2 linked regions of the Homo sapiens genome follow. The protein of the gene in region 1 purifies or fractionates together with the protein of each later gene. This does not show direct contact. Each region holds a gene or a part of one and is shown in the gene's direction. Other genes may lie near its edges.

What was found. Proteins that work in one complex are often made in the same cells at the same time.
Region 2: the proteins of CCND2 (region 1) and SPECC1L purify together in Homo sapiens (affinity purification with mass spectrometry; one large-scale study listed by BioGRID and IntAct). This does not show direct contact.

What each region holds. Positions count from the first base shown.
Region 1 is NC_000012.12:4,279,953-4,283,949, forward strand, and holds part of CCND2 (G1/S-specific cyclin-D2), read left to right. Parts: intron 1-3,997. UniProt on the Homo sapiens protein: Regulatory component of the cyclin D2-CDK4 (DC) complex that phosphorylates and inhibits members of the retinoblastoma (RB) protein family including RB1 and regulates the cell-cycle during G(1)/S transition.
Region 2 is NC_000022.11:24,413,831-24,416,034, forward strand, and holds part of SPECC1L (cytospin-A), read left to right. Parts: intron 1-703; coding exon 704-793; 3' UTR 794-2,204. UniProt on the Homo sapiens protein: Involved in cytokinesis and spindle organization. May play a role in actin cytoskeleton organization and microtubule stabilization and hence required for proper cell adhesion and migration.

The sequences.
Region 1 (3,997 bases):
TCTACGGAACGGATGATTATATAACGTACGATGTAGTGCATATGCCCTGTGCTCACAGTCAAAAAGTCAGGCTTTGCTGCATATCAGTGAGTGACCTTTAATTGGCTGCTTAACCTCTCTGAACCCGAGCTTCTTCATCTCCAAAACAAGCCTATTGATACATCATCCTACAGCCTTTTCAGAGCAGCTAGGAAAATTAAAATCAGAAAGAGGTGATGCACGTGGACGTGCTTTGTAAACCGAAGTGTAGGTTGGACCTTCACTAATTGTGAAAATGCTACCATCTCCGATTTTCACCCTGATTTTAACTGTTCCGACTAAAGTGGATATGATGGCTTTCCTTTTCTGGCTGCCCTTACGTGTTTCTAGCAGGACCTGTGTGTTCTGCACTTGCAGGCTTGAGTGTGGAGTCCTCCCGGCCCCCTGCCTGTTCATCTAGGGCACAGGTTTCCCCTTGCTGGTTTTCTGTAGTCCTGTTCTCCTGGATGCAGGCCAGGCCTCATGGCGTGCACATGCGCCCTGTGCCCCTTGGTGGGAGAGTCCGTTATCCTTCCTGCAGCCCTGGGGGCGGTTCTTAGGACCCCTGTGGACCCCTGCTGCCTTTTGGATAGTGGTCACTCTGGCTTCCTTCCCTTCTGCTGTCTGGCCCGGGCCCGAGAGGTCAGTCCTCCAGTGACCTGTCATTTTGTCTCCCAGGCTCGGCTGTCTCCTTCCTCTCTCATCATGATTCACTGTGGGGGAGGGGTCAGCCAGTTCTTTCTCTCTGGCCCAAGGACAGCTGACCCCCGACCCTAAACTCCCCCACTGCCCAGCTGTTGATAGCCAGAGCTCTGCTCAACACTGTCTCTTGACTAACAGATCTTTTGGGGTCTAACTGCCCCTTCCTCCTCTCTGATCTCTGATTGGGGTAGGGGTGCTGGGTGGAGTTACCGGGGTGTGGGCAGATCCCCAGATTCCGTCTAGACCCATTCTCGAAAACCGGGGATCCCATCCCCCACCCGTGGCCTTCTTGCCCAGATCTTTGGGCTGGCTGCCAGCTCCGGGGCCAGAGTAGGGAGCCTGGGATTCAGAGACTGAGGACAGAGGCCCAGAGGGATACAGAGGCAGTTATAAAGACTGTGTTTTGGGGGCCTTGAACTAGCTTTGGTCAGGGACTAGGAAAGGACACCCCCAAACCACATGAAAATGGTGTGCTAGGCACTAAGCCTCAGGCGTTGACAGGGCAGAGCACAGGTAGGTCCTCGGCAGTTTCCTGGGTCTGGAAAGGAGGGGCCTGTATCGAAAGAAGTTGCTTTCCCTCATCTGCACTTGGGTTTGTGCAACTGACTGAGTCACATAGAATCCTGGCTGCGTGGAGTTTTACAACAGTCGGCCTCACAGTACAAACACCGAAGGCCGCTTTTCTTGAAGGAAACACCTTCCATGGAGAGGCGATTGTGCATTGTGGGGCCAGGGTGTGATGAATGGGCAAGGACCCAGGACTCTGGCCAGTAGCGGGCACAGAGTGACTGAGAGGCAGAGGTAGGAGATGCAGATTCCCCAACCCGAGCTGTTGCCCTCACCTGCTCCTCAAATCGCACACTTCCCTCCTTTTCTCGCAGTCCTGGATGTTCCGTCCTGGAGCTGATGAAACACCTGCGGCCAGGGTCTCGGAGGTCCACAGTGGGTGGAGGGTGGGGGTCCCGAGAGATGGCCGCCAACCCTCAGGCCGTGCAGCTATTTGATGGGAAAAGCTGGTTGTGAAAGAGCTGGCAGTGGTTCTGCAGTGTGTGGGGAGCGTATTTGTGTGTGAAAGGGGAAGGGAGAGCAGGAGAACATAGAGGGGCCGCGTAAGTGTGGCGAAGTGGCGGTCTTGCTTTATGGGGCTCTGGATTAAGATGGTGGCAAGGCGGAGAGGAGCCCTCCTTCCTTCCCTGCTCAGCCTAAAATGGCTTCTGGAAGAGCAAGGGCCGCAAGCTGCTGGTATCCCTCTGCAGCAGGTCCTGGGCAGTGCAGGCATGGGTGGGTTGGGCGGGGGATCTTCCTGACTACAGCTCCTAGCATTCCTGTTCCTGGAGTTTCCAAAACTGGGGAAGCAGAACTGAGCCATAGCTTCCCTGGTTGCCGCTCTGCTGATAGAACACCCAGGTCTGCAAGCGAGGAAAGAAGGCCATTGGAGATGACCTGGGTTCGCACTCTGGCACTGGGAGATTGTTGAGATGTGATACCATGCTCGGTGGATGATTCCAGTTAGTCTAGCAGAGCCAATGGCATTGAGTTTACACCTGGCACCGGGTAGGGGGAGGTGCTCACCCTCCCTCTCCAGGCACCCACATCCCCTCTTTCTTCACTAGAAGCCCACCCTAAGATGCTGCACCTTGGTATTTGTGCCACACACGGTAGCCACCCCCAGGCCTCCCCACGCCAAGGCCAGAGCCCCATTGTTGACTAGAACCCATTGTGCTGTCCTAGCCCCTTCCCTGGCTTTACCTACAGGTGTTCCCTCAGATTCCATCGCCAAGTGAGAGGGAGACAGTGGTGGCCCAGAGAAGTTCGATGACTTGGCCCTTGATCTAGAGTGGGAGATTTCGCCTTGATGGGTGCTGGGAAGGAAGAATGGAAACCCGTCTTTCCATCTGCAAGTCTCTGAGCTACCCCTGAAGCCGCGAGGTCATGGGACTGAGGGGGAGTCGTTAGCATGCCCTGTGGGGACAAGCAGCCAGGCAGTGTGGTGCTTGCCATCGCTCTTCCCTCTGGCTGTAAGATGAATGGGTAGCAGGCTGCTCATCGCCCTCCAACCAGCCCCCTCCCCAGCTCCTCCCAGCAGGCCTTGCAGTTGCATGGGCATTCCCTTGCCATGGCAGCCCTGCCCCACAAGGACAGGGTATGCTGGTCCTCTTATGGGGGTGGCAGATGAGGTGCGTGCCCAGTGACGTCCCTGGCCTGTGAACACTCTGGTTCTGGCCCTTTGAACTTCCACCTGACTGCAGGTTGGAGAAGAGAGATGGGGAAAGCCTGACCTGGCCTTCCCTTTCTTCTTCAGCGTCAGAGTGCGTATCTCTCTCCCCCTATTGGTGAACAGAAGCAAAGCCATCACCCCTGCACCCCAAGACCTCGGCCACCATAGCCAAAATGATGGGTGCTAAATGTACTGGGCAGGACCATGTATTCCGTGGTTTTAAACTTACTTAGCTCTGAACTCTTTATTTGGTAAAATCCTACCAAGAAGTGCAGATACCAAGTTGATGAAATGGAGCACTTCTCAGGGCCCATGCCCAGGTGAGGGAGCCCAGCGGGACCCCCAGAGGCTCCCAGGGCATCCTTGGGAGGATAAGCCTTTTGTGCTTGCTGGTGCCGGGGCTGCGGCTGGGACCCAATTCCTTTGATTCCTGAGCCAGAGCGCCACCTTTGGGGCTCTTCTCCCACTTCCGACGTGAAAGGCTGCCCTGTCCTCCTGAGTGGTATATGGGAGGTGACTTTGAGGAGCTGGTCAGCTTCCAGTAAGTTACGAAGAGCTCTGCATCCAGAGTCTCAAAGTCTCATCCGGATCCCAGGCCCAACACTCACAGTGAGTGACATCAGCCAGATCACTTCATCTCCCAAGACTTCATTGATTCACCTGTAAAAGGAGATGTTTGAAACAGATGAATTTCAAGCTCCTTTTTATTAATACCTCACCATCATCACCGCCGTCATAAGCAAGCATGCAGCCCACAGCAGAGCTGCCCCTGGCGCCTGTGGGTCCAGCTGGGATTCCCCTAAGGTGTGTCCTTTGCCTCCACCATTTTGCCAGGAGGGAGGCGGGAATGTCGGGTGTTCCTGGTTATCTGGGCATCGTTCCTTGGCTCGGGTGAACTGCATCTCAATGAATTGTGGAATGTGCTGGGTTAGAGTTGCCAACTTCTCTCTTCCATTCGCTGAGTGTTCATGGGGTTCTTTTCATTCCCCTGTGGGGCTGCACTTTCTCCCAGTTCTGCAAAGCAGCAGGAGGCTTTGGGGACTCGATGATGTCATTTCT
Region 2 (2,204 bases), on another chromosome or scaffold:
AGCCACACGTCCTGTGCTCGTCACCCATGGGAAGGGAAGGATCTCTCAGGCCGGCCCCTTGGGTCACTCCCCGAGCCTTCAGCAGCAGCAGTGTGTCACTTTTTGAGGCCTTCTGTCTCGTGTTAAAGGCTGTGAGACACTGGAGTGAGGTGGGGGTGGGTCCACGGTTTCCCAAGTTTATTTTCCTAGAACATCAGTTCACCGGTCACAGGTCACTGGCGTTCAGCAGAGCACAGTTACAGAGCAGAGTCTTGGATGATTTCAGACTGTTGCCCATGGTGAAGGCCGTCAGAGTGTTGGTTCTGGGAGCCCCCGACAGAGAGAAATTCTCCTAGGCCAGTGCCTGGGGCTGAGAAGGGCTCTCAGAAGGGTCCCCCAAGGAGTGGTTTAAGAAGAGAGGCAGGCGCGGGGAGGAGGGAGGAAGTTCCTCCGCCCAGACTGGATGAAACCCTTCCCATCCTGCAGAGCCGTGAGCAGGGAGGCACCTTGCCTGTGGCTCTGGGGCAGGGGTGGATGGCCTGGGGACGATGCTGATGCCCAGGGAGGAAGCATTCTTGGCCAGGCTTTAAAAATGTGTAATTAGGCCTAGAAAATATTTCAAGGCCCCATCCAACTCCAAGAGCCCATGTTGCTATGGCAGAGCCCATTGGCACAGCCTGGAGGTGACCTGCAGTTCTAACCAAGCGTCTTCCTTGTCTGTCAGGACATTAATGAAATGGTACGGACTGAACGACCCGACTGGCAGAACGTGATGCTGTATGTGACGGCGATCTACAAGTACTTTGAGACCTGAGCATGCCGGGAGGAGCCGCCCCAATAGCGGGGGTACCCCTCCACAGCGACCGAGCGACACCGACGCCATTAGCTACGCACCCCTGTAAAGCTTCCAGCAACTCTGGGCTGCCCCACAGCGTGTGAGCCTCCAGCTCGGGGCTTCCGTATTGGAAGAACTCAGCCGTGTGGCCCACAGCTCCCACCAGGGCCCCTCCCACATGACCCGTCCATTCAGGTCATGTGGGCTCAGCACACATCCTGCAGGCCGGTGGCTGCTGGAGTTTTCCTTCTGAAGAGAATATTGAACTACACTAGTGCTCCAGGGCACCAAACAAAAAGGGCTCATGCACAGCTGAATTTGGGAAAAGGGATTCAGTTCTGTGGGAAACTCACTAGGGTTGATGAAGGCTCGGCCGCGGCACTTCCTGACTATTGGCTGGGGTGGGTTCCGGTGCTGGTGAGAACCCAGAAGGAGAGTCAGCGCCTGGCAGTTCCCAGCGCCCTGGGCCCTTCACCGTCCTAGTTTGGAGGAGCATGTTCACCACAGACGTGGGTCAGCTGCCCCACACCTGACGGGGCTGTCCCGGCCGACACAATCCAGGCGTGTTCAGCCTGAGCTAGGAGAGTATCTAGAGGGCGTGGTGCGGGCACGCCAGGGCTGGGGTGCTGCTGCTGCACTCACGCGGCTGGGCTTTCTGGCGGGAAGCAGTTACGGGGGCCCCTTGCCTGGACTCAGCGACCTGTCTTCCAGCCTGGAAGGGGTTTGGAGTCCCAGCTCTGGCTTTAGATTTCTTCATCATAAGGAGTTTTTCTAGTTAACATTTTTGTTTTGTTACGAGCAATGCTGGAAAAGGTCGCTCCTGTTCTGTTAGTACCAAAGTTACATTGTTTCAATAAGCATAGAAATCTAAACAACATCTGTACATTAGCATGGTGAGAGCAAGGAATAAAGCAGGAAATAGGAGAAAAGTAAACAACTTTAGGGAGCCCAGGCAGTGTCATTTAAACTCACTGAGTCACTAAGACATAATTCTCCTAGGCCAGAGTTAAAGAAAGTGCCTTAACTCTTCTTGTGAGGGCAGCCACTGCCCTCCGTGGCCAAGGCAGGACCTCCAAGACTCAGTGGTTGAGTTGTCTCCTACCACCATGCCCGCCCTCCCCAGGTACTGGGTCCATGCCCCCTGTGCCCACCCTCCCCAGGTGCTGGGTCCATGCTGTTTGAACCAAAGCCTTATTTAAAGGTGGTCACTGGAGATGCTCTCAGGCCAGAACTCAACAGCTATTTTTGGGAATAGGGATCTCCCGTGTGCCTAACGCAGTAGCTATTGGTTTGAACAATGTCCAGACAAGACCTGTACCTTTGAGAATATAACTGTGTTTGGCACCTGCATAGCACCATGAGGAAGACCAGCCACCAGTGGAAGCGGGGT